3 separate regions of the Homo sapiens genome follow, and all the other regions are linked to region 1. Evidence: fine-mapped expression QTL. A gene starts in region 1. Each other region holds a variant in brackets. All regions are shown on one strand. Distances are from middle to middle. Region 1 holds the start of FAM120AOS (family with sequence similarity 120 member A opposite strand). Region 2 overlaps FAM120A (family with sequence similarity 120 member A). Region 3 overlaps FAM120A (family with sequence similarity 120 member A).

Region 1 (10,398 bases):
GATCTACCATTTATGAAGCAGGCCTACAGATGTGTGTGTTCTTCTGGGTAATTTAAATTGACAATTAATTAACAGGGCTGGTGCTAGGTAAACATTATAGGTTAGAATCCCTAGTGTGGATTAATTTGCTCTCTTCCATGATCGCAGACTCCCTGCTTAGCTCCAGTCTGCTGGTCTCCCAACATCTGCTAATGATTACATGGGCAGCATTAAGGTCTCTTATTACCTTGTTTGAAAAACTGGAAACTCATCTGTTATTGTTGGTGGTTAGATACCTCACCTAAGTAAAATATTAATTAATGATATTAGGCTGGGCGCGGTAGCTCATGCCTGTAATCCCTGCACTTTGGGAGGCAGAGGCAAGTGGATCACTTGAAGTCAGGAGTTCGAGACTGGCCTGGCCAACATGGTGAAACCCCGTCTCTACTAAAAATACAAAACTTAGCCAGGTGTGATGGTGTGTACCTGTAATCCCAGCTACTCCAGAGGCTGAGGCAGGAGATCACTTGAACCTGGGAGAGGGAGGTTGCAGTGAGCTGAGAACACATCATTGTACTCCAGCCTGGGCAACAGAGCAAGACTCCATCTTGGGGGAGAAAAAATAAATAAAATAAATACAAAATAAAAAAAGAAAAAGTCCCCAACCATTAGTTGTCATATTGTAACCTCCAAGAAGACATAACTTTTTATTAAATTTTAAATACAGATGTTTATTTTTTATTTTTTATTTTTAAGATGGAGTCTCGCTCTGTTGCCCAGGCTAGAATGCAGTGGCGTGATCTCGGCTCACTGCAAGCTCCGCCTCCTGGGTTCACGCCATTCTCCTGCCTCAGCCTCCTGAGTAGCTGGGACTATAGGCGCCTGCCACCACGCCCGGCTAATTTTTTTTTGTATTTTTTTTAGTAGAGACGGAGTTTCACCGTGTTAGCCAGGATGGTCTGGATTTCCTGACCTTGTGATCCGCCCACCTCAGCCTCCCAAAGTGCTGGGATTACAGGCGTGAGCCACTGCGCCCGGCCCAGATGTTTATTTTTACCTCAATATTTAAGCAATTTAACTTCAACCAACCCCTGAATTTGAGTTAAGGATGCAGAGTATATAAGTGTTTGTCAGCTAAACATTTTGCCCACCATCAATAGCTACTCAATAAATAAAGTTTTTTTTTTTTTTTTTTAAAGAACACAAAGCTAAATAGGGCAACTAAGAATTGAGTTTTATGTGTTATGATACAATAATGAATTTTAAACTTTCCAAAAGTACAATAACTGGTCTATGTTCTCGAGTATAAGTCTAGACAAATACAGTTTCTGGAAATAACTACAAAAGCCAACATTTATTGAGCATTTGTTGTGTGGCAGGCACACAGGTTATCTGATTTAATCCTTATAACAACCTGGGAGGTTAAGTACTATTAATATGTTGATTTTACAGATGATAAAATCCAAGGTTCAATAAGGTAAATATTTTTGCAAGGGCACAGACTTATCATAAGATGGATATTGGGGGCCTGACTCCAGAACCTTAGACCTCTACAATATAATAAGGTGAAAATAAATTTATTTCCAGAATTCCAGATACTGGCACTGGCATTTTTTTTTTTTTTTTTTTTTGAGATGGAGCCTCGCTCTGTTGCCAGTCTGGAGTGCAGTGGCGTGATCACTGCAACCTCCACCTCCCAGGTTCAAGCAATTCTCCTGCCTCAGCCTCCCGAGTAGCTGGGACTACAGGTGCGCACCACCACGCTCGGCTAATTTTTGTGTTTTTAGTAGAGATGGGGTTTTACCATGTTGGCTAGGATGGTCTCCATCTCTTGACCTCGTGATCTGCCCGCCTCGGCCTCCCAACGTGCTGGGATTACAGGCGTGAGCCACCACGCCCGGCCGCACTAATGCATTTTTAAAAATTAAAAGCAAGAGTGTTTAAAGAAAAGGTAAATACACGGAATGCAATGCTACAAATGAAAATACGAGTGATTAAAAACTACTACTCCTCACCTTGTGAACCTGCCTTGGGTTATAAAAGCAAATTTGGATATTTCTGGATTTTGCTCGTTATTTAATGGCTAACTGTATTATTTCTTTTATTTATTTATTTATTTTTGAGACGGAATCTCGCTTTTTGCCCAGGCTAGAGAGTGCAGTGGTGCCATCTCCGCTGACTGCAACCTCCGCCTCCCGGGTTCAACCAATTCTCCTGCCTCAGCCTCCCAAGTAGCTGGGATTACAGGCGCACACACCACCAGGCCCGCCTAATTTTTGCATTTTTAGTAGAGACGGGGTTTCACCATGTTGGCCAGGCTGGTCTCGAACTCCTGATCTCAAATGATTCACCCGCCTCGGCCTCCCAAAATGCTGGGATTACAGGCGTGAGCCACCGCACCTGGCCTGTATTATTTTTAGATAACATGTCATCCTGGCTTTGTGACTAATTTTATGCATAGGTGAGTGGCATAACTTGTCAGCCTGCTTTTAAATGTAACTTCCTAAAATACCAGCAGCATTTAATTTATGTACGTATGATACTGGCTTGCATTTGAGGTGGGTATCAGAAAAGAAAGCAGAAAAATCCAACTTGCCTTTTTCACCGGGAGTATGGGGGCTTCTTTGGCCAAACCGTGCGCGTGCAGGCTCCATGTGCTGGGCAGCAGCTGTCCGGCCACAGCCTGTCGGTTGCATCCTGCTCCTCTACAGAGGTTTCTCCAAAAAAAGAACAAATGGAGAGATGAAGGTAAGTAAAAGCGGCACTTTAAAACTTTTAGAGTGCTGGGTTTCTAAATTTATATTCTGAAAGACATTAATCTCTTTTTGAAAATGTTTTATGCAAGCCTAATATACATACAGTATCAACCTCATTTTAGAAGCAGTTACGACAGAGCTTTGGAACAGAATTTACGTAAACGACCTCCTTCCAGAAGATGCTACTAAAGCAACAAGATTCAAATCCCTCTCCCTCAGAAGAGCTGGGAGATCCACTGCAAAGGCGCACGTTTCAGTCTAGCCATTGCGCAGTGGTAACGCAGGCTTTCCCACGCTGCAACAGACCTGTGCTCTCAAGACAGTCTCTTCCGTGACGAGCAGGCGCTTAGGGCTACCTGTACCTTCAGACATTATGGTGTGTTTGGCCATGTCATTTGTCATAGGTGTAAAAACCACAACCGAGAGCCCGAAGCTGCTGGGATGAGCACCTGCCGCGGAACTGCATTCTCGCGCTCCTTCCTGCTCTTTCCAAGAAGCCAGGCGCGGCCGGCCAGCATCCCGCTCTCCCGGACCCCGCAGTCAGTGTGGGCAGCAGGCCCAGAGTGGTGCGAGCCGACGGCGGCGTTAGAAAGGCGGCGTCCCGACGAACAGAGTGACTCGGCCTCGGCTCCCCTTCAAAGCGCCATCTTATCGCTGCTTCCCTCAGGAGCAGGCGAGCTCTTCCCCAGGACCTGCTTCGCGGCTTCCCTTCGCCCGAGAACCACCGGGCGGAGGCGGCGGCCTCTCTGGCCCTGCCGGGAACAGGGCGCAGGGGAGGGGAGCGGCGGCCGACCGGCCTGAGGCGGGCGAACGGCCTCTGGCCTCCAGGCGCTGCCTGCTCCGGCTCAGAAGCCTCCCGGATCCCGTCCCGGCCCAACTCCGGGCCTCCGCCTCCGCCGCCGCCTCCGGGAGCCCCGAGCCGCGTCCCGCCGGCGCCGCCTCTTCCGCCTGCTAGCCGGCGGGCCTGGGCGGCGTCCGCGCCGGGCGGGTCCGCTACGTCAGCGCCGCCCGCCCGCCCCGCCCCGGCCCTCAGCCTCGGCCTCGGCCTCGGCCTCGCAGCGGCGGCAGCGGCGGCGGCGGCAGGTCCCTCCCCAGACATGGCCCTGGGAGGCGGCAGCACATGGCGGCCGCGGCGGCCATGAGCGCGCCCCCGACCCGCCCCAGTCCCCCCTAGAGGCCGCCGCCCCCGCCCGCCAGCCCGCCCGCGCGCCACGGCCCCACCACCCCCGGCCCCGCCGCCCCCCGCCCGCACCCGCGCCCGCGCCCCCGCCGCCGCCATGGGCGTGCAGGGCTTCCAGGACTACATCGAGAAGCACTGCCCGAGCGCCGTGGTGCCGGTGGAGCTGCAGAAGCTGGCCCGGGGCAGCCTGGTGGGCGGCGGGCGGCAGCGGCCCCCGCAGACCCCGCTGCGCCTGCTGGTGGACGCCGACAACTGCCTGCACCGCCTCTACGGCGGCTTCTACACCGACTGGGTCAGCGGCGGCCAGTGGAACCACATGCTTGGCTACCTGGCGGCGCTGGCCAAGGCCTGCTTCGGCGGCAACATCGAGCTCTTCGTCTTCTTCAACGGCGCGCTCGAGAAGGCCCGGCTGCACGAGTGGGTCAAGCGGCAGGGCAACGAGCGCCAGACGGCACAGCAGATCGTCAGCCATGTCCAGAACAAGGGCACCCCGCCGCCAAAGGTCTGGTTCCTGCCGCCCGTCTGCATGGCCCACTGCATCCGCCTGGCGCTCATCCGCTTCCACGTCAAGGTGAGGCCGGGGATCCGGGCGGGCCGGGGACCGGGGCCGCGCCGCACCCCTATCCCCCTTCCCAGGGCGCAGAATGTCGCCCGGCCGTGGCGGCGCTGGGGGCAGCGAGTTCCCCCAGCCCTTGCCCGGGATAGCCTGGCCGGGCCGGGCTGCAAGATGGATGGCCGCGGGTGCAGGCCGCGCGCTGCCCAAGCCCGTCTCCAGCTGTCCCTGTTCGGGGTCCGCGGCCGCGTGGGGACACTTGAGGGCTGGGAGAGAGCCCCGGACCAGAATTCGGAGGCGACAGTGTCATCATCCCCAATATCCTTAGTTTTTCCCATCCTATTTGAGGCGGGCAGGCTATCACTCACCTTCAACTTTGACAAAATACTCCCTTTTCTAATTTAGCCTGTTCTTTCCCAGCAACAGGTTCATCTTGGAAGCAGGCAGGATACAGAGTAATAGAGGGGGTTTCGCCAGAGCCCTTGGGGGCTGCAAATATCAGTGCTGCTGCCGCCGCCCTTGCCAATGTTGTTAGCCCGGTGACAGCGAGACGTGTCTAAGGGCCAGTGCCCTGGCCTCTACTTCAGAACGCAGTGCCCTGTCCGTGTTCCTCTTAGTACAGGGTGTTTAGAGAATCTTTCTATGGCTTTTTGTGTTAGATTTCAAAGACCCGTGCACTTTGACAGGATGGGATTTTGTCAGTTCTGTGACTTCACGTCCGTGTGAAAGAGGTCTTTAAGGCAGTTCGGTTTTGTAGATCCCATGCGAAAGGAGTCGCTCAAAATCAGGGGGCGAACTACGCGGGCGTGAACTCGCAGGATTTATTTTTCGGGTGCACAGTAAGTATTCAGTGACCTTCAGCGGTGCCCTGACGGGTGGGTAATCAGAGCTCTATATCACCGGCCTCCTCTGGCCCTTTGGCAGAGGGCTTCGCAGCTGGCACTGGGCCAGAGGAGAACTTCAGGACCCAGCAGTGACTGTGAAGATAAGCACATCCATGATCCTGGACTTCACGTTCTGATTGCTTGCTTTTTTCATTGGTTTTCTTGAAAACAAATTTTGGGGGCCTTTTTGTTGTCTTAGCTCTTGACACTCGGTCTTCCATCTTGTCATTTGACATTTCCTTGAAACTGCTGGAGCTGAAAGTTTGTGAAATTCTGTCTTCGCGGTTGCCCCCACTGCCCGCGAGGAGATGGTGGTAGTTAAGCCTAAAATGATAGCGGAAGTCCCACCCACGATCCGGTTGCAATTGGTGAGATGGTGTTTAAGTCGTGGGTGGAGGCGGCCGGCAGAGTCCCGATTGGCCCCTGCGCCTGGCAGACACACAGCTGCCATTCCTCAGGGAAGTTCGGGTGAGAGGAAGTGCCTGCCTTTTAATTTCTGAATCGGAGCCTGGGGCGCTCAGGGAAGTAAGGTGCTGCCATTTGTCTGAAGCGATCCATCTCCCTAATAGAGCGTAAAAGTGTTCATAGTTTAGTCTTGTTCAGAGATGGAAAAGACTACTTAAAAGACAGGATGAGCTGCACTGACTTGCCTTTGGTAACCGCACAGCTCTCTACTTAACTAGTCAAGCGACTTTCAAGGGAACACTGTGAATATTACTTAGGATTAGAATCAGTATGTATGCATATGGTCACTGTATCTTTAAAGAACTGTTGAGTTCTTTTTAATTCTACAGTTTCTTTATCTTTGCACCCCTTTGAATGCCTCGCACACCTAGTAGGTGCTCAGAATTCAGACCAATGTGTCAGTGTTAGGAAACTAGATTTAAGCTCCATTTAAGATCGTCTTTTTCACTTAGGTTTCTGGACACGGGATAATGGGATAATTTTGTCTGTATTTTGCTTTTGCTAAGCTTTTAATTATTGACCTAGGGTCATATTATAGTGCGAATTGCACAAAATGAATATTGTAATAACTCAATTACTTGGTGGTCTCTTAGCTGGCAACCTTACCTTTTTGAAAAGTGCCTAAGAGATTTAGCTACTAGAAATTTCTCAGCAACCAAGCAAGATGTCAGGAAGTTTGGGTACAGTGATGTGGGGGGTTGGCGGGTGTAGGGGGGTGCTTTTGCTTTCCTCACTGAAGAATCCTTTAAGCTCTCTCACTCATGGACTGGCCTCTTTTCATATGTAATTCTAACAAGCTTGGTTATCTATTTTCTAAACTCAGCTTGAGAAGAGGATGAAGAGGAGAGTCTGCCAGAGGCAGGAGCACCATTAATAGCAAGAAGTGACAAGAGAGATTTAAAAAGCTATAAAAAGCAAACATAATTCTGGGGCTATTTTAAGAAAAGGAAAACAACCCTATGTACTTCCTTGGTCCCTGAGGGTAGTACAATGTTTATTCTATAAGGATGATTTTGAGTCATAAAAATTAATATTCAGCATTCTCTGTTTAAGGGATTGAAACAGTGTATACCATTTAATAAAAGATACCCATAAAGTGGTTAAAACGTTTAAAACCATGATATCACTACATGCCTATTAGAATGGCTAAAAGAGAAAAAAATATGAGCAATACCAAGTGCTAGCAAGAATGCTGAGCAACTGGATCCTTACACATTGCTTGTGGGAATGCAGAATGGCACCACCACTCCAGAAAACAGTGGCACTTTCTTATAAAGTTAAACATACATTTATCATACGATCCAGCAATTCCACTCCTGGGTATTTTCCTAATGAAGACTTTTGTTTGTGCAAAAACTGGTACTCAAATGTCCATAGCAGCTTAATTCATAATAGCCCAAACGTGGAAACAAAGTATCCTTTAATAAGTGAATGGTTAAACTACAGTATAGCCATACTATGGAATACTACTTAGCAATAATAAGGAAGGAATTGCTGGTGTAGGTAACAACTTGCATGAATATTTAATTAAGGTTTTATACTGAGTGAAAGAAGCCAGGTTCAAAAGGGATGATTATAAAACTATAGTGATAGGGACCAATTCAGTGGTGCTGAGAGTAGAGGAGGGGAAGGATGTACACATAAAGGGGACAGCAGGAGAGATCTTTGTGGAGTGATGGAACTGTTCTGTATTCTGATGGTGGTGATGCTACCATACATTAAAATCAGAACTATTCATCCAAAGTAAATGTGTTAATTTTATCATATGATAATTTTTTTAAGATTAAGTAAAAACCACTGGCAAAGGAATTGACATGAACAATTCAGTATATATAATGTTGAGTAAATGAGACATTTATAAAAACTTTAAGCATCTTATTGGTGCTTTCTAGTGTTTTGTAAATTGGCAGAGGGGCATAATTTCCTGTTACCTTTGCTTAGAGAAATCTTTTTTTTTTTTGAGATGGAGTCTCACTCTGTCTCTCAGGCTGGAGTGCAGTGGCGCGATCTCGGCTCACTGCAACCTCCACCTCCTGGGTTCAAGCGATTCTCCTACCTCAGCCTCCCTAGTAGCTGGGATTATAGGCGCCTGCCATCATGCCTGGCTAATCTTTGTATTTTTAGTAGAGGCGGGGTTTCACCATCTTGGCCAGGCTGGTCTTGAGCTCCTGACCTCGTGATCCACCTGCCTCGGCCTCCCAAAGTGCTGGGATTACGGGCGTGAGCCACTGCGCCTGGCCAGGAGAAATCTTTTTTGATTTAGAGATTATTTCTTTTACAGAGTAGTAATTGTATTTTTTTGTTCAGTAGTAGTAATTGTATTTCTTTAACCATTAGAAGTTGGTCTACATGGAAAGACAGCCAGAACAATGAAAATAATAATACTTTGGCCTATGTATTGACTAGTTTTGTGTAGGTCCTAAAATAGCCTAATTTGAACTTGGCTTTAGCTAGTTACTTGGACAGTGTTTCTTCTTGTGTGCCTTGGGTCATTATAACCTTTGAAACTTCAGTGAATGACTTATGTTTATTTTAAAATCTTAGTGGCATGAAGTCACTGGAGCTTTCATAAATGTTTCTGCTATATGACTTGTGGTATCAGTGTAAGGGTTTATAATAAAGTCCTTCAGATCTTCTGAATTTGCTTCCATTGGAATTTTGTTAAATAATGCTCTTACATAAAATGGCGTTCATGCTATAAGTCAGTGGAAGAATGTGAGGTTAGACTATGGTTTAGAATTTTCATGGTTAGCATAATTACATGTTTGTATTTAGAGATGATGGTCTCCCTTCATGTATACTTGATGGGGGAAGAGAATGAACTGGTATCAGACCAGGTGCTTGCTAGATCCTTTCTCACATATTCCATCTCATTTAATCCTCAGAGTGCTTTGTTACCCCATTTTTCATGTGTAAAAACAGGATCTAGTGATTAAGTGACATCTGGGGACAAGTCATTAGTAACCTCAAGACGGAAGTGGAGTGCTAAAGTCAAAGTTCAGCTTCTTTGTGTAAGAATACTTTGTGGGTGTGCCTACCTACAATTCTCACCCCCAGGTCAATTACGATAGCTAACTGCTTCAGCTATGTTTTCTAGTTAGGATAGGAACAGTCATGTTGCTATTCAGAAGAAAAATGTCCATCAGTAGATCCTGGACACTGACAGTACATCTTATTCTTAAGGACCTTTAATTGACTGGAAGATTTTTAAGGTTCAAAACTGACCATATTATACCTCAAACTAGTCACTGTATATATTTCTCTGTTGTACTACTTTTGTCACTAGTTTAATTCACATAGCATAATGTCTTCAAGCTTCTTTCATGTTGTAGATTGTGTCAGAATTTCCTTAACTTTTAAGGCTAAGTAATACTCCACTGTGTATATGTACCACATTTTGTTTATCCATTCATCCACTGGTGGATACTTGGGTTGCTTCCACTTTTTGACTATTGGGAATAATGAATAATGCTTCTATGAGCATAGTATACAAAGAGCTGTTCGAGTTCCTGCTTTCAGTTCTTTTGGGTATATACTCAGAAGTAGGATTGCTGGGTCATATGGTAATTCTGTTTTTCTTTTTAAGGAATGGCCATATATTTTCCACAGTGGCTGTGTAGGCCATATATTTTATGTCATAAGTTATATAATATATATTATTATAATATAGTTCCATTTTTTCACATTAATGTGATTGCACTATACGTTATTCAGCAGTTTGCTTTTTTATTTGTAAGAAATCTTTCCATGTCTATACTTAGAGCTCTAAGTCTTTTCAGTCCCTAAATAGTATTCCATAATTTATCCAACCCCGACAGATGGTATACACATGATATATACACACAGTAGAGCTAAAGGTATGCACATTTTAAAAGCCACGTAGGACCATAGAGTCAACATTACCAGAACTTCAGACTTTGCAAGAAAGCCAGAAACCCAGATTTTTAAAAAAATTATTCCATTTTAAAAATGCCAAGCGAAGGAAAACTTGGTTCTAAGTTAGCTTCAGCTCTTGTGCCACCAATTTGTTATTTGAGCACTGATCTTTATCAACAATTATCATGGTCATCTAAATCTCTTCCTTTTTTTTTTTTTTACTTTAAAATTAAACCTATCAAAAACCACTCTGTCTTTTCCTGTCTGCCTCCTTGAACCTTTTTCAATGATCAAAATGCTTCCATTTCCTGGGGTTACTGCAATATGATGTTTCCTTAAATGCCACAATCCTCTTGGCCACTTCCATAGTATATTCTTCATTATATACTTCTCAATATTACATATTTTGAGGTGAGTGCTAACCCACATGTTTATTTGACATCTCACCATTTCCAAGGCACAGCCTCACTGTCCTCAAACACTTCAGCACCTGGTTTTACATTCTTATATATTATTTATACTGTGTCCCATCAACACAGACACTGACTCTTCACCTCTCTCATCTGGCATCCTGATTCTGCAACTGGAGTGAATTTCTAATTGCACTTTAGATACTCCAGAGCTTGGACCGTATAATTAGTGAGAAAAGTGACCCCACCTTTAACACTTCTGAACGCTGTGTCCCTGTCACTCCTTGCCGCTCCC
Region 2 (10,596 bases), 51 kb after region 1:
TTCATAAATGCAGTGTATTTGTAGTCTCTCTTTTCTTGACCCCTGCCTTTTTTTTTTTTTAATTCTTTTTTGTTGTTGAGCAGAGTATTGCACTGTCGCCCAGGCTGGAGTGCAGTAGTGTGACCTCGGCTCACTGCAACCTCTACCTCCCAGGCTCAAGTGATTTTTGTGCCCCAGCCTCCTAAGTAGCTGGGATTACAGGCATGCGCCACCATGCCCAGCTAATTTTTGTATTTTTAGTAGAGATGGGGTTTCACCATGTTGGCCAGACTTGTCTCGAACTCCTAGCCTCAAGCGATCTGCCCATCTCAGCCTCCCAAAATGCTGGGATTACAGGCATGAGCCACCACGTTCAGCCTGCAAAAGACCAAAAGTTAATTCAGAGATTTGAAATTGGGAAATAAAAATATTTATAAGCTGTTAGCCTGAAGCCTGCTTCATATTGAACGTCTTGTGGAGGTTATAAAGCACTAAACTGTAAGTAGAAGTATGAGAAATAGACCCCAACTCTCATTTAAATTGTGTTGTTTGCTTCATCTAAGTTAACAAAAGAATGATTGCATGTTCAAGAGACTCTTACTGGAAGGAGACTTTGTATTTATTTGAGAAGACTAATTCCAAGATTGAAAGTGGCCTTAAGAGCTGCACCCTTCATTTATTCAAGCATAGTGTCTGCTGTATGCTAGGAACTGGGCATTGGAGATCAGAGGCATGGCACTGGCTTTGGCTGCCTATGTATGTGGCTGGGTGGTGGACAGGGAAACATGGCCTGTGCCGATGCCCTGTAATAAAGGAGGTAGGGCTTGTAACCTGGAGATGGGCATGGAGTGGCTGAATCTCCACTGCGAGGTCAGTAAATGGCAGCAGCCTCCCAGTGGGGCTCTTTGCTGCTCTCTTGCTCCCCTGCAATCCATTTTCTTCCCAGCAGCCAAAGTAATGTTTAAAAATGGCAGTTGGACTGTGCTACTCCCATGCTCAGAATTCCCCATTGGCTTCCCGTCACACTTGGAATAAATTCCCAACTACTTACCTTGCTTCCTCCCCATCATCTGAGACTGCTGGCTTCTCACTCCTGAGCGCAGCCTCCTTTCTTGCCTTGCATGAACCAAGCTAGCTTCTGCCCTGGGCCTCTGGGCCGGCTTTTGTGCCTGGAGGGCTCCTTTCTCTGACCAGCTTGTGTTTGTGCCCTTCTGATTTGTGAGATCCAGGCTGTCGTGTTCTCCAAGGTCTGCCTGGCTTTAAATCTCTGCACACTCCTTGGCTTCTATTTGTCACCACCACCACCCCTTCCCCCGTCACTCCCCACAATGTAAAGTCTAGGGTAATGAGGGCCTATTAGTCACCTTTACTTTTATATCCCCAGTGGATAAATATTTGACTGAATGAATTGATCCACTTGGTTTTTAAATCAAGAGAGTGAAGTGGTGAGATGTGTTTTAGGATTATTTTTGGAAAAGGGGGCACAGAGCATCAGCAGGAGGGAGACTAGCTGTATACTGTTTCATCAGTTAAGGTGAGGCATTATGGGACCAGATCTCAGTGTGTCTACTGTATACCCTGCACACAGAAGATGTCTAATAATTGCTTGTGGGAATGATGGGGAGCATGAACATTGCCACCTGTGGCCTACTGCCTCCTGACCTCGAGCTCCCTATTTTATAGAATGGGGTCATTATGTGAATATTAAAAGAGAAGGCGTATGTAAGGTGCTTTAGTGAAGTACTTGTTCAGTCATTCAATGCCCTTTTAGGTAATTCTGCCTATAAGAATAACAGATACTGTCTGATAGTAGATACTGTCATTATTCTTCTCATTGGCAGAATGGCCTCAACAGGCACTGAATGATTGGGCATTGGAATGAGCAGTGAGGAGCCTGAAGGAGCGCTCAGAGGTGGGGCCGGCAGTCTCCTGTGTTTCACTGACATTGTGCTCCTGTGGGACAGTCTGTATGGCAGGTGTAGTTTAGAAAGTCCTTAGAGTGTACTTGGGACTGGAAAATCTACTTAGGAGAAAATTAGGAAGATAAGTATAGAGAAAGGCAGCACACTTAATATTTGGCATTGATCTGGGCTCATAATTATGAAGATGTTTTGAATAGGCAAGGTGAGTTAAGTTTGAATATCTTAAAAATATGTTCTGTCAAGTGCTTTTGTGTTCTTATCAAATTATTAAGATTTTAGGTGAGTATTTTAGAGGTGAAGTTTACTCAGAATTTAGTTTCACTTTCATTTTCACTACTCGGTGGTTTATGGAGAACAGCAAAGTAACTGGTAGAGTTTGGGATGCTTGGGATGATAGTTTGAGGCAGCTTAGGGTAGGCATGAACTGCCTGTAAATCCTCCTGTACAGCATTCCCTGATGCTTCTGGCTGTTGCAGAAATGAGGGTTGTATGCGGAGGGACTAACAAAAGTACAGGCACAGAATGACAGCCAGGCAGGAAGTTTGGGCAGTGTAGAATTTTAAGATGACGGGTATGCAGTCTGGAATGGCAGGAGACAAGCCTGGAGAGAGGCTTCAGGCAAGATTGGGAAGGACGTTTTGTTTCAAGCTGCATACACATGATTTGGAACTAGCAGAAATGGATTCTTGTAAAAATAACTTTAGTTTTTTTCTGATAACTCTGAAGAAACATAAATTACATTAGCTGTCATTGATTTTTACCCCTGCATACTACTGGGATCCTACCAGTGAAACTAACAGGGCGAAGACTGGAACCTAAGTTGAAAGTCTAGAAGGAACAACATGGAGTCGGTGGGACCCTTTCTGGCAACTCAAGTTAGAACCCATGATGTATTTTCCACAGAAATATTTTTATAAGTAGTAGATAGGTCCTAAGTGGTCTTTGGTGATCTGTCATAGAATCCAACCACAGTCCATTATATTATTCTACAGGAAAATAATTCAGAATTTTGAAGAACCAATGTGGGGATATTAGTTTCTTGTTGTATTAGAATTTATCTTATTAATCATTCAGAAATTGGAATATGTGTAGAGTTTTGAAGAAATTTTAGGGTAATCATATTATAAGCTTAGAGAGCATGGCTATAGGGGAAAAACATGGGGTGAGTTGATCTAACCAGAGGTTTCTAAACTTGGCTGGAATTTTAGATTCCACCTCAAAACTGCTATTTTAGCATCTTAATTGGGCCTTAGGAATTTATATTTTTTAAAAAGGAATGTTCCTAGCTAGGTACCAGTTGGCCTGGCTTTTAGGAACCACAACTCATCCTCTGTGCCTTTCTTTGTAAGCCTGTAAATCTATCTGCAATATTGAGAAAAATACCTCAGATCTCTAAACAGTTATTGGGTAGTGTAGAGTTCTTAGGAGGACACATACACACACACACACACACACACACACACACACACGCACACTTGCAATATAGTCTCCCAGAAATTGTGTATTTTGAGATGATTTTGAAAATAAGTGGTGGTGAGATGCATACTTATTTTTAAGCATTCACTATGTCATAATTACTAAGCGAGGACCTGCCTATCTGGAAATGGTTGTGATTTGTTCTTTCTGTCTCAGCATGTAAAATCTGCTATAGCTCTCCACGAAATCACCAATCTAAATGCAAGCACAAATAAGATATGTGATAGTTGAGATTTCAAAATATTTAGTTCCCTAGTTAAACCAGTTGCTTCAAAATCATTGGTGGAATTTACTAAAGTAACAAGTAACACAACTAACACTGAGGTCTCACCTCAGATCTGTGGATGTGGAATCTATGGGCACAGATCCCGTGTGCAGGTGAAATTGAGGCTGAAGAAGTAGCCACTGTGTCATTGGCCTTCCTTAGTGAAAAGTAAATGGGCTCCTACTACACATTTTAATTACACATTTGTTAGAATGATTAACATAGAAAACACCAACAACACTAAATGCTGGTGAGGATGGGTAGCAACAGATTGTGCTGCTAATGGGATTGCAAAAATGGTACAGCGACTTTGGAAGACAGCTTCGCAGATATTTACAAAATTCCCAAGTCATGCTTGTTGGTGTTTGCCCAAAGGAGTTGAAAACTTATGTCTACGCAAAAACCTGCACACAGATATTTAAAGCAACTTTATTCATAATAGCCAACGCTTGGAGGCTACCAATATGTCTTCAGTAGGTCAACAGGGAAATAAAGTTTGGTGTATCTAAGCAATGAAATAATCAACACTAAAAAGCAATGCGCTATCAAGCCATGAAAAGATGCAGAGGAACATAAGTACATATCACTAAGTGAAAGAAGCCAATCAGAAAAGGCTACATACTGTGCGATTCCAACTATAGGACATCTGGAAAAGGCCAAAAGTATGGAGGCAGGAAAAAGATCAAGGGTTGCCAGAGGTTGTGGGGAGGGAGGGATGATTAGGCAGATTTTTGGGGCAGTGAAACTATTCTGTATGATACTGTAACGGTGGATACATGGCATTATACTTCTAGCCATATCCAGAATACGTACAGCACCAAGAGTGAACCCTAATGCCAACTGTGGGCATTAGGTAATCATAATGTAGCCAGGTTTGGCTCATTGGTTGGAACAAATGTGTCACACCAATGCGAAGTGTGTACTCTGCTCAAGATTTTTGTAACCTTGAAACTGCTCAAAAAAAAAAGTATATATATATATATTTTAAAGTAAAGAGCTCGTTGATTTGTGCATTTCATGACAGGCAGTGTGCTGGGTGCTGAATGGTGTGGTAAATAAGAGAGGAGTTACCGTTGCCCCTACAGATGAATGTATAGTGGGGAAGTGAACACCAGGGAATCCTGCAGGAAAGAGAACAGGAACCTCAAGGAAGACCAACCTGATTGAATCAATCTACGATTAAAATGGCTGGTTCTGATTGATTAGATTATTGTTGAGTGGGGTTTGGGGGTTCAGGCATCTAGCAAGGTGCCAATATGGGAAGAAGTGTATTCCATGCAGGGGAGGTGGCATGTGAGAGGTCCTGAGTTAGGAGGACATAGTGAAGAAGAAAAATAAGAAGAATGTGGTTGAAGCACAGAAAGCGGGGAGAGTGGTCAGGTGATGCTGAGAGCGGCAGTGCAGTTGCCAGGCACCACCTTGGATTTTAGACTTTATTCTTAGAACGTGAAAGCTCATGGAATAATTTTTACCTGTAAAAAAAATGATTTTGTAACTATCATACTACAATGTGTTAGTCTTAGAACATTACTAATATCTTAGCCCTCTTATATGTCTTCGCTGGTTGCATTCCTCGACTCTCTACCACCCTCAATTTTGTATTAGTTATTCTGTGCTTCTCTATATAATTTTATCGTGTCTGTATGTCTGGATACTAAATAGTTTCATTTTGTTTGTTATGAAATAAAATCATATAGCATGTACTCCTCTGACTTGCCTTCTTAATATTTATATTATTGTGTTTCATTCATGTTGGCATAGTTCATTTTTTAATGCTGTGCAGCATTCCATTGTATTAATATATATTTGTCCATTCTACTGTTGATGGAAAATGGACTGTTTCCAGCTGCTTGCCATGATGGATAGCGCACTTGTGAACATTGTTTCATGTGACCTGATGTGCCCAGGAGTGGAATTCCAGGGAACCTCCAGGGTAGGGCCCTGTTCAAGCCTCTGCTGCTGCCGGACACGGATACACCTATTTATTCTCCTGGCAGAAGTGAAAGAACCCTCTCATTGCTCCACGTTTTATTATTTTTTGGTCTAGTGATTATGAAACTATATCCTGTAAAGGTTTCAGTTGCATTTCCCTGATTACTAATGAGGTTGAGAATCTTTATGTTTATGGGCCAGTAGGGTTTCCTCTATTGTGAAATGCTTGTTCATGTTGTT[C/T]GCTTGTGTTTTTTTTTTTTTTTTTTTTTTTTTTTGAGAAGGAGTCTCGCTCTGTCACCCAGGCTGGAGTGCAGTGGCGCAATCTCGGCTCACTGCAAGCTCCGCCTCCCAGGTTCACACCATTCTCCTGCCTCAGCTTCCCGAGTAGCTGGGACTACAGGCACTCGCCACCACGCCTGGCTAATTTTTTGTATTTTTAGTAGAGATGGGGTTTCACAATGCTAGCCAAGATGGTCTCAATCTCCTGACCTCGTGATCCGCCCGCCTCGGCCTCCCGAAATGCTGGGATTACAGGCGTGAGCCACTGCGCCCGGCCTGTTCGCTTGTGTTTCTGTTGGGTTGTTTTTCTTTTTGCTTATTCATAGGGATACTTAATATATATATTGGATGCTAGTCAGATAAATGGACTGCAAATAATAATCTTCCAATCTGTGGCTTGCATTTTTCTGTCTTCATGATGTGCTTTGATATCAGAGTTCTTAATGTCAAATACATGAATTTTTCCCTTTGTTGTTTGTACCTTTAAGTCCTATCCTGTATTTATGGATGAAATGATGTCATGTCTGAGATTTGCTTCACAATAATGCAGTAGTGGGCAAAGAAGGGTGGAAGTGCAGATGACACGCAATAGGCTGTGTGCTGGTTAATTTTGAGGGTGGTTGATAGATATGTGTGGCTTATTGTACAGTTCCCTTTTTTCTTGTGTTTGTTTAAAGTGTTACATGAGAAGGAGAAAAAGAAAACATAAAGGAAGAATTCCTCCCTAGCCTGAGGTGATAAACACTTTGTCTTCTAAAAGTTTTATTTATGATTTTGCCCTTTGATACTACCTGGCACTGAATTTTGTTTATGGTTTTTGAGTGAGGGAATTCAGTTTCTTGTTCACCGTGTGGAGAACCTGTTGCCTTAGTATTGTCCACTGAGAATGCTATCCTCTTCTGACATGTTGAGTGTCTCCGTGTGTGGGTCTGTTTCTGGGCTCAGTTCTGTTGAATTTCTGATTATCTTCATGCCACAGGATTATGCCGTTCTAGTTGCCATAGCCTTGTAATAATACTTGATGTCTGATTGGGGAAATCTGCCCATGTAATATTTCTGCAAGAGGTCGAGACTGTTCTTGATCCTTTTCACTTTTATGTACATTTTATGATCCTTGTGGAGATTTTGATTGGAATTACACCAACTCTGTAGATCAATTTGGAAAGAATAAAATCTTTATTATTGAGTGTACTAAAGAAAATGTTACATTTCTTTATTGATTTGAATTGTCCTGAATATCTTTCCGTAAACTTGAATTTTCTTCATTAAGCATTCATAACATCTTTTCTTAGAGATATTGCTAAATATTTATTTTTGGGTGCTATTTCTATGTGTGTCTTATATTTTCAAATTAATACTGTAAGTTGATTTTATCTTAACAACTTTGCTCAGTTCTTATTAATTTTCATAGTTTATTTGTATCTTGCTTTGGCTGATTGTGTCTCCTCTAGTATCTTTTTGATCTTCCTGATCCACTGAGCCAGCTGTGACTTAGGGCATGATTTTTTTTTTTCTTCTTTTTTTTTTGTTTTCAAGATGGAGTCTCGCTCTGTCGCCCAGACTGGAGTGCAGTGATACAATCTCAGCTCACTGCAACCTCCACCTCCTGGGTTCAAGCAATTCTCCTGCCTCAGCCTCCCGAGTAGCTGGGATTACAGGTGCCTGCCACCATGCCCGGCTAATTTTTGTATTTTTAGTAGAGACGGGGTTTCACTGTGTTAGCCAGGCTGATCTCGAACTCCTGACCTCATGATCTGCCCACCTCGGCCTCCCAAAGTGCTGTCCACAAATGGACAGGTGTGAGCTACCACACCTGGCCGGGGCACGATTTTTAATAGAAGGTGCGATGGTGACTGTTCTTGTCTAGCCCTTGATCTTAAGGGGGAGTCTGATGTCTTGTCATCTTAACCCTTAGCATTATCTCCTCTACCTTTTCCATGTTAAAGAAATATCCTCATGAAAGAGTTTTAATCTGGGAGTGGTGTGCTGAGGTGTGCATTTGAATTGCTTGGGCCTCAGTGTGCAGAGGGGATCAGAGTGGGCAAGGGCAGGTATAGGGAAAGGAGTGGGAAACTCTTTCAGTATTGAGGCAAGGCATGGTTGCAGTCCCTGGGGCAAGTTCTCCTCTGTGGGAGGCAGGAGTGCTGGGTGGATTTCATAGGTTTTTGGGAGATGGAATAAGTAGATAGTAGATATTGATGCTTGATTATAGAAGCTCAATGAAAAGAATTCGGGGGAAATGGCTCCCAGAGTTTTGGCTTGAGCAGCTCAGGTGAGGATGCCATTAATGAGATAAAGATGGTTGGAGGAAGAGCAGATTTGGAGGATGGTTTTGGATACGAATGTTGAGGCGCCTTCTAGGATCCCGGTGGAGATGGGAAACAGGCATTAGAATGCACAGGTGAAAGCAGAGTGAGGAGCTAAGCTGGAGTCATGGGTTGCAGCTTTGCTGGTGTGTAATGCTGAGAGGAGCTGTGGTGGTGGAAGCGGAGGATAAAGAGATGGCGCCCCTGGGGCCAGATGCAGGAGGTGGGTGCACAGAAAGAGTGGCTCAGCGAGGCCAGGGGAGATACCCTGTGCACAGTTGTTAGCAGCGCTGAGTTCTGAGAGGTTGGGCAAGATGAGGGCGCTGCCTGATAGATGGAGTGTCAGTAGGACCACTCAGGGCAGGCTTCGGCTGAATTTGGAGCTCCCAAACCTTGTGTATGTACAATTGGTTGGCCCTCAATAAGAGGCAGTGGATCCTAGGAAAAGTCATTTTTAGCTTTCCTTCTTCCTCAGTATAGAAATTCGTAGAAGAGGATAGGATGGGTGGCAAGTACCACGCCTCTCTCCAGTCATTTCCATAAAGGGGTGGGGCTTTGAAATGCAGGGGAGAATTGAACAGGTTGAAGTTGTTATGGGGATGATGACTACTGAGAGAGAGGGGTTAAAGATACAGAAGGGAGTGGTTTTGGTGCACATGTGGTTTTACAGTGAAGGTAGGGGAGCTTGATCTCTCATAGCAGACAGCCTCCTGCTACCTGGTCTTTTGAAAGTCTAGCCTCCACTAAGCAGCATGGGGAGGTCACAGAGTGAGTAGACTGAGGGCATATGTGTAGAGCAGCCAGGCTGCTGTGTGTCAGAGAAGAAATTTGCAAATAGGACCATGTTGAAAAAGGTGCTAATCAGTACTAAGCAAAGAACAGATGCTACACAGTGATGAGCAACCTGGTCCTGGTCACAGCAACACAGTGACCTCTGGGTGTAGCAGCTGCCAGGTGCTTGGGAAGGGCCCCGTGGTGTGTTTCATTGGGACAGGAGCCTGTGGTCAGCCTGTGCCCTGACAGGTCCCCAAGGCTGGTCACATTCTACCAGACCAGACTGTGTCTGAGGGATCACCTTCCTGCAACGCCCAGTGACTGACCTGGATGCAGACCTAGGAGACAGCAGGCTGAGTGGCCTGGGGTGGGCACTGCTACCTCCAGCTCAGGCAGCCTGCCCAGGAGAGGGAATTCATGTTGTGAAAGTTACTTGTGACAAACCTGAGGGAGAAGCTGGGTTGGTCCTGGGGCTGGTGTTCTGGGCTCTGGCCATGGGGATCCTGCCCCTGCTTTGCTCTTGGGCATCACTCCATCCTGACTGAGAGGGGCTCCTGTGCTGCATGAGGTCTGTGTGTCCTGCTGCTCCCCTGACTTTTCCATAGAATAAACAGCCCTACTTCATATGTGTCACCACAGCCCTGATCCCAGTGTCGCATTGCTCAATAGATAGTGTTAACAGTTATTTTGAAAATACACACGATCTCTCTCCAATAACATACCCCCCAGAATCTGAGAACATGAGAAAATATCCCACTCGGAAGTTGGAAAGACAATATGTAAAGAATGATTTTAAATGCCAGATGACTGATCCTAAGCTGCGGAGAAAAGGTGTTCAGCCTCCAGGGAACTCAATGGCATGCCACTCAGACCCTGGAGGTCTGAACAGAGCCCACTGCAGGCTCTGGTGAGAAATCTGTAGTGTAACCTGCCTGAGTCAGCTGAGTGCTCTAGCAAAAGGACCAAAGGATAGAGGCAGGTCCTCTAGGGCAGAAAGAGTGGAAATGTGAAAGAGACCACATGGTGGCCCACACTGCCCCAGGCCATGCCTGGCTGACAGCTGGATGGCTGGACCCACCTGGACCCACCCAGTGGCCCTCCTGTCCTGTTGTGGTCAGGGCAGAAGTGGAGTGCCTGGGGCCTCCTGCAGAGGAGTGGGCTCAGCAGGGAGCATGGATGGCCTCGGGGGTTGGGACTGACCAAGCCTGGGGGCTATGAGCCGTAAGTGGGGCCCATTATAGAAGCTGGTGATGACTTTCTTATTTTCTCCAGAGATGGTCTGGTACTCTGCAATGTGGAGGTGCTATGTAATTTAGCCATGTCTCTGCTGTCGTTGTCAAGAACGTGTTTAGTTTTTTGCTACTATAATGATTTTTAAAAAAATTTTATTTTCATGAGGTATTCAATATTATACTATTGCAGTATTTTACTAATAACCTTAAAAATTTGATATTCCTTAAAAATGTTATATTAAATCCTCACTTTGTCCTGTAGCTTTGCTTACTAGACTTGCCCTTTCTTAGATTTTTACTAAAGTTTTGTTGTTGTTGTGATGAAAAACTGTTAACAAAAAATAGAAGAAACAGTAGAATGAGTGGTGGCGTACCTACTTCAGGTTATACAAATGGCAACCTGTGCTTCAGATCAGTCTTTTAATAAAAAA
Region 3 (10,596 bases), 23 kb after region 1:
GAAGTGATTGGTTTCTGCAGAGAGAATGGTTTCCATGGCTTGGTTGCGTATGACTCTGATTATGCACTGTGCAACATCCCCTACTATTTCAGTGCCCATGCCCTAAAACTGAGCCGGAACGGGAAAAGTCTCACCACAAGCCAATATCTGATGCATGAAGTTGCCAAGCAACTGGACCTGAATCCAAATCGTTTTCCTATTTTTGCTGCTCTCTTAGGTAGGTGGAGCAGTGTGAAAATATTTTATAAGGGAGTGACCATATGATAAGCACATTGATCTTTTAAGTGTTTCTGTGCTTGAATGTTTTGGATATGTATCACACATTGAAAAGAACCAAGGCGTGGGCTCTTCCTTAGCATTCCTTGCTTCGTATTATTTTTTGGCATAGCTAATGTGCTACTTTTGTTCTTAAGTGTTTGTTGAGGTATTGTTCTATCCAGGAATTGTTCAGATTAATTTTGTGAAAAAACTCATTTAAGGTTTTGGAAAACTAACATTCTAAATCACAGATGTCAACACATGGTCACTATGTAAATTAGACATTTAAACCTTTGACATAAATTATGTTTATAGTAGAAGAAAATATGCTATGGGGTTAGAATGGTTATGTTTTCACCTCATTTTCGGGATACTCACTACTTTAAAAGAGAAACAAAAATAAGCTATCGTAGCTTGTTTCCAACACCTACATTTTAAGTAAATGTATACATGTCTTTAAAAAATTTCCTTGGAGGAATTCCTTATGCTGAATACCCAGAAAGGATGAAATCTTGTTTTAACTATGACATTAGATTTTAATTTTCTTTAATTAAAAATAATTCCCCCACGCCTGTAATCCCAGCACTTTGGGAGGCCAAGGTGGGCAGCTCACCTGAGGTCAGGAGTTTGAGACCAGCCTGGCCAACATGGTGAAACCCTGTATTTACTAAAAATACAAAAATTAGCCGGGCATGGTGGTGGGCGCCTATAATCCTAGCTACTTGGGAGGCTGAGGCACAAGAATGGCTTGAACCAGGGAGGTGGAGGTTGCAGTGATCCAAGATCGTGCCACTGCACTCCAGCCTGGGAGACAGAGTGAGACTTTGTCTCCAAAAAAAAAAAAATTCCCAAGAAGTAATATATTTGTCTGTCACTTTATATTTGCATTGTGTGTTTTCTTTCTTTGCTCTTTTGTCAGCTACCCTTTCTTATGCTTTCATTGTGCTTGTCTCACCCTACTTTAATATCCAGCTCTAGTTTACTTAGTTTATAAGAATTGTGTCCAAATATAAGTAAACATGTTTTGGAGGGAGGCACTCCTGTGATTAGAATCCATGAATCTGATGGGATTTGGGGCTGTTTTGGACACACAAGGCCAGTTTGGGAAGCTGTGTGGTCTCTAGTGCTCAGTTACTGTGCTCCCTTGCAGTATATATTCTATAGAGGCTAGCAGTCCAATCCAGTCCTGTTCAAGAGGGGATTATATTGTGGATTATTTTTAGAAATGCCTAGTTATCAGAAAGATTTTTATAAACATTCCAAAACAGTTTTACACAACTAGAAATTGTAAGGAGTCACAATTTATTTTTATTTTTTTGGAGGGACTGGTTCTTTATTTCAAAGAGACACTTTTCAATATTCAGTATCAAAACGATTGCGCTATTGATTTCTATTTCTCCCAATCGGTCTCAAAGGAGAGTACATTTTAAGTCAATAAGTTGTAGGATGTATACCAACAGACCTCCTAGAAACCTTACCAGAAAATGGGGACTGGGCAGGGAAAGATTAACTTTAAAAGATCAGCAAACTGCCAGCCCATGGGCTGCAGAGGCTATGCTTTTCAAGTTTTCATCGTTAAGATATCTTTGGACAATTTTTTTTTTTTTTAAATGGAGTCTTGCTTTGTTGCCCAGGCTGGAGTACAGTAGTGTGATCTTGGGTCACTGCAACCTCCACCTGCATGGTTCAAGCAGTTCTCATGCCTCAGCCTCCTGAAAGCTGGGATTACAGGCGCCCACCACCACGCCCGGTTAATTTTTATATTTTTAGTAGAGACAGGGTTTCACCATGTTGGCCAGGCTGGTCTTGAACTCCTGAGCTCAAGCAATCCACCCACCTCTGTCTTTGCTGGGATTACAGGTGTGAGCTACCGCGCCCAGCCTTTTTTTGTTGTTGAAACAGGTTTTTACTCTGTTGCCTAGAGTGGAGTGCAGTGGTGCAATCTCGGCTCACTGCAACCTCCACCTCCCAGGCTCAAGTGATCCTCCCATCTCAACTTCCCAAGTAGTTGGGACTACAGGTGCATGCCACCACATCCGGCTAAAGTTTTTTGTGTGTTTTTGGTTGAGACAGGGTTTCATCATGTTGGCCAGGCCGGTCTCCAACTCCTGAGCTCAGGGCGATCCACCTGCCTGAGCCTCCCAAAGTGCTGGGATTACAGGCATGAGCCATTGCGCCTGGCCACATAATTTTTTATATGTTATTTTGTGAAAGCATTTCATGTTTTACTATATGAGTCAGTCAACAAAATTGTGATTTCACAACTTGTGTTTGTTTGGATCTAATCTCAAATACAGTGCTTAGTAAGGGAACTCTTGTGCCTTTGGGGATTTGGGGATTAAAACGAATCTTTTAAATATATTTTCAAATATTAAAATATAAAAGGATATTTCCTCTGATGTTAAAAGTGAGTATGGGGGTGGCACATTATATGGAAAGTTCCATGTTTGCTTAAATGCTATGTAAAATAACTTGGCATATTAATTGACTTTGAATGTGAAAATCATATGCTCTTAGAATATGGATGCCTTAGCTCATTTGAAAAATGGAAGAATACTTGTTTATCTTGTTTAAGAAACATTGAATATGGTATTTGGAAGATGATGCCAACTGATACTTTTCTAGCTTGTTAGTTTGTGAAGTTTTGAAATAAATGAAAAAATCAATTGCAATATGTTGTCAATTTAATTTAGGGCTTGCAATCTCTTCAAAAAGTTTAGTGAAGTTATAGGTAAGCTCCTAAGTTTTTGTTGTTGTTGTTGTTGTTGTTGTTTTTTGAGATGGAGTCTCTCTCTGTTGCCTAGGCTGGAGTGCAGTGGTGCGATCTTGGCTCACTGCAACCTCTGTCTCCCAGGTTCAAGCGATTCTCATGCCTCAGCCTCCCGAGTAGCTGGGATTACAGGTGTGTGCCACCGCACCTGGCTAATTTTCACCACGTTGGCCAGGCTGGAAAAGTTTCACTGTGCTCAAATGAGAAAGCTTATTTTTCTTTTCCCTTCTGTAATGGAAAGTATAGCTATATAAAGTATTTTGTTTTAGGAATGTTGGAATATTCATTTAAGTATTTCACCCCCCAATTTTTCACAGGGACTGTTACTAATGTTGGAGTTGCCTTAATATTATTTCGAATTGAAGCTTCCAAAATTTCGGACACTTCGTTCTTTTTTTGTTTGTTTGTTTTTTGAGACAGAGTCTTGCTCTGTCGCCCAGGCTGGAGTGCAGTGGCATGATCTCGCCTCACTGCAAGCTCCGCCTCCCAGGTTCACACCATTCTCCCACCTCAGCCTCCCGAGTAGCTGGGACTACAGGCAACCGCCACCACTCCCTGCTAATTTTTTGTATTTTTAGTAGAGATGGGGTTTCACCGTGTTAGCCAGGATGGTCTCGATCTCCTGACCTCATGATCCGCCCACCTTGGCTTCCCAAAGTGCTGGGATTATAGGTGTGAGCCACCGTGCCCGGCCAGACACTTCATTCTTCACCGTGAAATTCTATGCAATCCATTAACGGGAAAACAATATCAAGCCAGCAAACCTGAGCAGTTACGGTTCAGATTTGCTCATTTGGACATCACGGGAGTTCAGTACCTCTGGCTTGTGTGTTTGTGTGTTTGGAATACAGGTGGAGTGTCCCTTATCTGAAATGCTTAGGACCAGAAGTATTTTAGAGTATTTGCATATGCCTAATGAAGTATCTTAAAGATGGGACCCAAGTCAGCATGAAAGTCATTTATGTTTCATATATACCTTATACACATAGTTTAAAGGTAATTTTGTAAAACATTTTAAATAATTTTGTGCAGGAAACAACATTTTGACCGCCTTTTGACTGTGACCCATCTTATGAGCACAGGTGTGGAATTTTCCACTTGCATCATGTTGATGTTGAAAAAGTTTCAGATTTTACATCAGATTTTACAGACTTTACATCATTTTGGACTACGGATGCTCAACCTATATTATAACGTAGCAATATTCCAAATGGTCTTAGTTTGTGTTGCATTCTGTTAGTAGCAAATTAATGAATTTGCTATCATAATGTGGAGGTGATTAAGTAATGTTATAAAAATCATGGTTATTTAGGAAATTACTGCTTTGAGATTTCAATGAGATAGCTAACCTACTAAAGATCAGGTATACCAGGCATACGAACATTATTATGAAAGTAGAGTATTACCCCCAAATATAGTTTCTCAATTGAATACAGTTTTGTTTGTAGACTGTGACAGCACTGGTGATAGGATGAGCAGCTTAATGGCCTCATGAGTATTACTGTAGGATGGGCCTTTTCACATATGTTTGTGGGTGGTGATGGAAATTATGGGAGAAGGGTGTTGATTCATGTTACAATCAGCAGTCATTGTCATTTAATCTTGCTAAGAAAGGTTTTATAATTGTGCAGATTTCACATTTGGTGTTTTTATGTAATTTTGAACCGTAGCTATTTCATGAACAGATGAAAGCTTGAACCATAGTCATTTCATGAACAAATGAAAACTTGAATCTAATTGGTATTTGATATCCTGACATTGTCAGACTGACCTTTTGCAAACTGGTGTTTATTTTTAATACTGTGCTGTGAAGTTGTTTCAGTTTTATGCAGTTCTTAGGTTGAATGCTGTTGGGACTGCACTAGAAATTCCCGTCATTCTTGAAGCAGCTGCAAAGATTCTGCCTGCTGTATGTCGCTTTATGTTAAGAGATGAAGATTTGTTCTCAGTTTCTGTTTGAAAGTTTTCTACTATAGGTGACAATATGCAGCACTTTTGAAAGTTTCCCTATGTTACTTAAGATGATTGCTTTTATGTTATCCATGTTTATATTCCAGGAAATCACATTCTGCCTGATGAAGATCTGGCTTCCTTTCACTGGAGTTTACTTGGTCCAGAACATCCACTAGCCTCACTAAAGGTACAAATTTCACTTTATTTTTCTAGCATTTGTAATAATCAACTGTGAGTTTGCTATTACTTTAATAACATGTTAGGCCCTTTATTGGTGATGCTACAAAGTTAGCAATACCATGTTTTCCCATAATTTCAGGATCTGCACTGCCTTAAAAAGCAAGCAACAATGCTACCATCCCTTGTTCTCAACACCTATATGTTAGGTAAATGTATAAATGTCCTTGAAAATTTCCCTTAAGGAATTCTTTGTGCTGTGTACCTAGATAGAAGGAAATCTTTGAGCTGATGTTTTATATATTAATTTTCTTACTTAAAAATTTTAATTTTGTCTTTAGGTAGTATAGTTACTTGTCACTTAGAGCAACATCTTTGCATAGTTGATAAATTTCATAACTAATTTTCTACAATTATAAAATAGTTTATAAAGCTTTTTGGATGATGAGGGAGACTCAAATGGAAGTGATCCATTTGTACTATTTTATTAAAACTTAATATTCTTTTTCTCCCTTTTGATTCCCTTCCTGTTTGTGATAGTAATAAACATCAGAGATGAGGCACTTAATTCTGATTTTCTGCAGTGGAAGTGTCTGTGTTTGATGTGAGCATAGGAGTAATGAGTGAGATATGCACGAGGCACTGGAAAACTTCAGCTTGGACTTGTTAGTGACTCCTGTGATTGTAATGATCATTTGTCAGTTCAAGTGCCTTTCTTGACTTGGGGAATTAGGAAGATGGGGACCTAGACTTTGTATCTGCTTCCCACCCTGGGACTGCTTCCTTACAGTAAAGAGTGGCGGTTAAATTGGGTGTTTTCCGAAGGGCTGTAAAATTTTGAATGTTGTCGTAATTACCCTCCCTCCATAAACAATTTTAATTGGTGGCTAGTTTCAAATGGGAGTTTTTCTTCCTACATTTTAATTTACCTTTAACTCTGGTGATACCCAAAAGCTGAAGTAGAATTCCTTTCCTCCTTTCATTTTGTTCCCTGCTGTTTCATCTCTGGCATGCTTTTTCTTTTTCATCTCTGGCATGCTATAAAATGTTCTCCTTTT[C/G]ACCCTAATGGGGTTTGGTATGGACTGTTTTCAACTTCTTGTTCAAAAATTAGTTTTTCTTCTCTTGTTAGAAATTACATTTCTGGCCATAGAATCCCTCCTGTATGTTTTCATGAATGAAGTGATGTGATCTGTCATTCGGACTCTAAGCTTCTGGTGATGCCATGATTGAAATGTGGATTGGGGAAATGCAGCGTGTAATCAGCTGGACTTAAGAGCACTGCACCTGTGCTCAGTAGCTCTGTTAAGCATTATGCTTTTGTAAGTGAGACACAAATGAAAGCTTGTTTCCTACAAGATTTATTTTGTTTTGAAGAGCAGGAGTGAGATACTCCCAAGGTTTCTGGCTATATGTGTATGTCTAAGTTAAACTAGCCCTGCTTCATATGTCACAGGGTTAGAAGTGAAGAGCTGTTTGAAGAATTATTGGAAAACCAGCTCAATCTATTGCCAAGTGAATAACATCATTATATGTGTGTTTTTCCTAAATTTTGTTGAGAAAATCTTTAAGTATTGAAATGTGGAAAGAATAGAGAAATGTGTATCCGTATATCCCCCATCTTGGTTCAACAATTATAAACATTTTGCCATAAAGTATATGTCTGTGTTTTGTTTTGTTTAACAAAAACTATTTGGAAGTAAGTTGCAGATATGACACTTTACCCATGAAAATGTCAGCTTGCTCCACCACTTCAGCTTGCTCCATCACTTCCTAAAAATAAGGACATTTTGATACTTTATCATATTACTCCTATGACATCAACTAAATTAATAATTCTTTAATATCTTTTTTTTTGAGACAGGGTCTTGCTCTGTCACCTGTGCTGGAGTGCAGTGTCTAATATCATTTAATATTAAGCCCATATTCAAATTTTTTCAGAGTCATTTATAGGTTTTTTTTTTTTTGATCGAGATCCAGTCAAGCTTTATGCATGCATTTTGATATTAGCTGAGTACTTTTATGGCATATTGGAGAAGAAATCCTAAATTATTTTTCAGATGACTTGATACGTTGTAGGATTTTAAAGTCACACATGAAATGCAAGTGCACCTGGTTTTGAGATAAGTTCAGAAATTGCATTTGTTAGCCACTTTAATGTTTTTATTTGAGACAGAGTCTTGCTCTGTCACCCAGGATGGAGTACAGGGGTGAGATCTCGGCTCACTGCAACCTCTGCCTCCAGGGTTCAAGTGATTCTCCTGCCTCAGCCTTCCAAGTAGCTGGGATTACAGGCGCCTGCCACCACGCCAGCTAATTTTTGTGTTTTTAGTAGAGGCAGGGTTTCACCATGTTGTCCATATTCGTCTCGAACACCTGACCTCAGGTGATCCACCCACCTTGGCCTCCCAAAGTGCTGGGATTATAGGTGTGAGCCACAGCACCCGGCTCACTTTAATGTTTTGACCCTTCATTCACATTTTTGTATGCAGCACCATTTCAGTGATTTTAATATACATAGGGGAAATTGGATGTGGTTTTACTCCCCATGAGCATGACTGATGGATGTGCTACAGAATTGTATGTATCCCACCTGCTATTTTAGTCTCTTTGTTTTTCCCCAGTTGTAAAACCAATTGCATCTTTTGAAAATTTGGATAGTTGTTACATATCTTCCATAATATTCTGAGTTTTATTTTCTGAAATATTCTTTGTGTTTTTGTATTATGTTGAAATGATGAGAGGTTTAAGATTAGGGTATTGCATTTTTTTTTTTTTTTTTTTTTTTTTTGAGACGGAGTCTCGCTCTGTCGCCCAGGCTGGAGTGCAGTGGCGGGATCTCGGCTCACTGCAAGCTCCGCCTCCCGGTTTCATGCCATTCTCCTGCCTCAGCCTCCCAAGTAGCTGGGACTACAGGCGCCCGCCACTACGCCCGGCTAATTTTTTGTATTTTTAGTAGAGACGGGGTTTCACCGTTTTAGCTGGGATGGTCTCGATCTCCTGACCTCGTGATCCGCCCGCCTCGGCCTCCCAAAGTAGGGTATTGCATTTTAAGAGGTGCTTTGAATTGATTAGATATTAACTTCATAGAACACCAGCCCTCTGTGAACAATAATAAATTTGGCTTTGGCAAAATAGTACAAATATAATATGATAAAAGGGATGGACCAAGGAGGCTTAAGCTTGAGGATGCAAAGTCACGTGTCCTTAACAGCTATTTTTCCAGTATACTCTGTTAGAAAGGGAACCAATAAAAATCATGAGAAAATTTCATCTTTTTACCATCTGATGAAAATCACAAAATACCATGGATAGGAAGTCATCAGTAGTCGATAATTTATGTGATTCCAAATCTTCAGTATGTTGGCAGCACTATGAATTTTTGTTTTCTTTATAAGTAGCATCCTTAGACTCATCTTTTAAACATGTGTCTTTACCAATTTCACTACATGCATTCATTCATTCACTGTAAATTTTTAACTCTCTGACTGTCATCGAACCAGCTACATCAGTTAGAAATTGTGAAGTCCTCCCTGACTGTCCACAGCCCTGGTTGTGTTGAAAGAATAGCACGTCTGCTTTGGGGCTCTGCGGGCTCAGAAGCACAAGGGAGAACAACTGTTAAATCATTGGGTAATATCTGCAGAGAGGAAAGCTAGGATGGGAGCCAAATTCTGTTTTGTCCTGCCTTATTAGTTAGTAGTAGATCGTGCTTATTACTAGATTATGAATGCAATGTTAGACATACTCAGAACCTAAAATTGGTAGAAGACAGTAGGAAATAGGATGTAAGGTGACTTCTTCATACCTCAATGGTAACCTTAAGAGCTGCTAGTAAGGTGGGCATTGAATTTCTTAGGTTTAGATGCAAAGACTACTTCATTTATGTTCAGAACACTTGGGCCATTTCATGTAACATGTAAAATTGTAGGATGGGGTTAGGGGTCAGATAGCTTCTAAGATGTGGTCAATTCTATAATGAGAGAAAGAAAACAAGAGTTATGTGTTACTCCCTATTCCTCGGGAGACCTGCTGTTGGGATTCCTTGCTGCAGTCCCGGAGATGCCTGGAGGCTGGGCTGGAGTGCGACCTCTGTCTCTACCCAGGCCCAGGTCCTGCAGAACAGGGAGCCTGGCAGCAGATGATACAGAGCAGGCTGGGCCAGGATGGGTAAAACCCCAGGGCTGCACAGACACCCAAGCCTGAGGCTGCGTTTATCTTACTTTGCTCTAAGTAAGTTACTCTGTTTGATTGGAAACATAAGAGAATCTTTTATGTACCTGGAAGAGTTGAGATACACTCCTGGAATGCCTCCCAAACAATGGGGAAGGCATTCCAGGAGTGCATCTCATTTCCTCGCTCATTTAAACTTTTTCCAATGGCAATATTTCTTAAAAGGGTCATATCTTTAATAAGGAAAATACATTGAATATCCTTTCAATGTGTTTTTGGACTCAGTGTTATAATTAGGAAGATTTGTGATTGTATTTACAGTAATGAAAAGTGGGCTGGATGCATATTGGTCTTTCGAAGAGGCTCCCACTGTTTGTGTTGCTCTGGGCCGCTGTGCTCCTTTCATGGTTTTAGTGTGGCTGGCAGTGTTGCATGAGAGAAATGGAAGGCGTCAGGCAGCCTGGTACCCAGAGAGCTGAGCCTGCAGAGCATGGGCTCCAGTCCCAAGCCCAGCCTCTGTTTCCCTTCAGGTGGTGCCCCCATGCCTGCCTCCTCCTGTGCCCTGGGAGTGGCTGGCCATTCGGTCTGCCTGGACATAAGGTTTAGTGAGCCTGTGGGTGCCCTGCATAGCTGGTGTGGCCTGTACTCATCAGAGGCGGCCTGCGGCTGTGGCAGTCCACCCTGGGCAGGGCCCCCTGGCTGTAGACATGTGCTAAGTGAGCAGTTTTTCAAAATGTGACTTTTGGGGTTTTAAAAATTGTATGATTTTGTGTCCTAACTGGTTACGGGAATTTTTTATTTTGGGTGGGCATTTTGTTGTTTTAATTTTTAAAAATGTTTTATAGATGTTTGCTGGCTTTATTTTTTTAAAAAAACATGTTTCTTGTTGCCTCTGGTTTTCTTGAATCTTGGGTTTTTAAACACTTTACAGAAGGCTTTTTGTCACTTGGGTGTTCTACATCCTATTGACCTCGTATTTGGGTATAATAACATTTAAGTTGGACCTGTTTAGTTTCAGGTCATTGTATTCATTTTAGTGGTTTTTGTGTTCCTTAACTTCATATTCAATTTCATATATTTTGAGTTTCCATCCATGCCAGTTGTTTGTGATGGCCAAGTATTCCCAACCACTGAGCCCTTCGAGCTCCTTTTGCCTCCTTGTCTGGGACACCCCAGCTTGCAGATTTTATATGGACTGATCCTTTCCTGAGACTTCACTACCAGCAGTTCTACTTTCTAGTTAGGTTTAGTCGGTTTTACTCTGTTTA

Evidence for each region. PIP is the estimated chance that this variant, and not a neighbour inherited with it, causes the effect.
Region 2: its variant is fine-mapped to the expression of FAM120AOS in whole blood (INTERVAL, PIP above 0.99).
Region 3: its variant is fine-mapped to the expression of FAM120AOS in whole blood (TOPMed, PIP above 0.99). The same link has a PIP of 0.9 or more in blood mononuclear cells.

The regions. Positions count from the first base shown.
Region 1 is chr9:93,447,904-93,458,301 of GRCh38, forward strand. It overlaps FAM120AOS (family with sequence similarity 120 member A opposite strand), which reads right to left and starts at 5,678. Exons shown (of 3, transcript NM_198841.4): 1 at 4,244-5,678; 2 at 2,576-2,696. The coding sequence starts at 4,806. It overlaps FAM120A (family with sequence similarity 120 member A), which reads left to right and starts at 3,782. Exons shown (of 18, transcript NM_014612.5): 1 at 3,782-4,486. The coding sequence starts at 4,013. RefSeq lists enhancers at 3,262-3,811, 5,391-5,520, 5,584-5,878 and silencers at 3,392-3,921, 4,062-4,191, 4,492-4,671.
Region 2 is chr9:93,499,230-93,509,825 of GRCh38, forward strand. The region is part of intron 5 of FAM120A (family with sequence similarity 120 member A); the gene reads left to right. Among named protein-coding and RNA genes, the nearest start is that of FAM120AOS, 51 kb to the left of the region's middle. RefSeq lists a silencer at 9,636-9,831. The variant C/T (reference allele first, on the strand shown) is at 5,815.
Region 3 is chr9:93,471,171-93,481,766 of GRCh38, forward strand. It overlaps FAM120A (family with sequence similarity 120 member A), which reads left to right. Exons shown (of 18, transcript NM_014612.5): 2 at 1-217; 3 at 5,086-5,168. Among named protein-coding and RNA genes, the nearest start is that of FAM120AOS, 23 kb to the left of the region's middle. The variant C/G (reference allele first, on the strand shown) is at 6,217.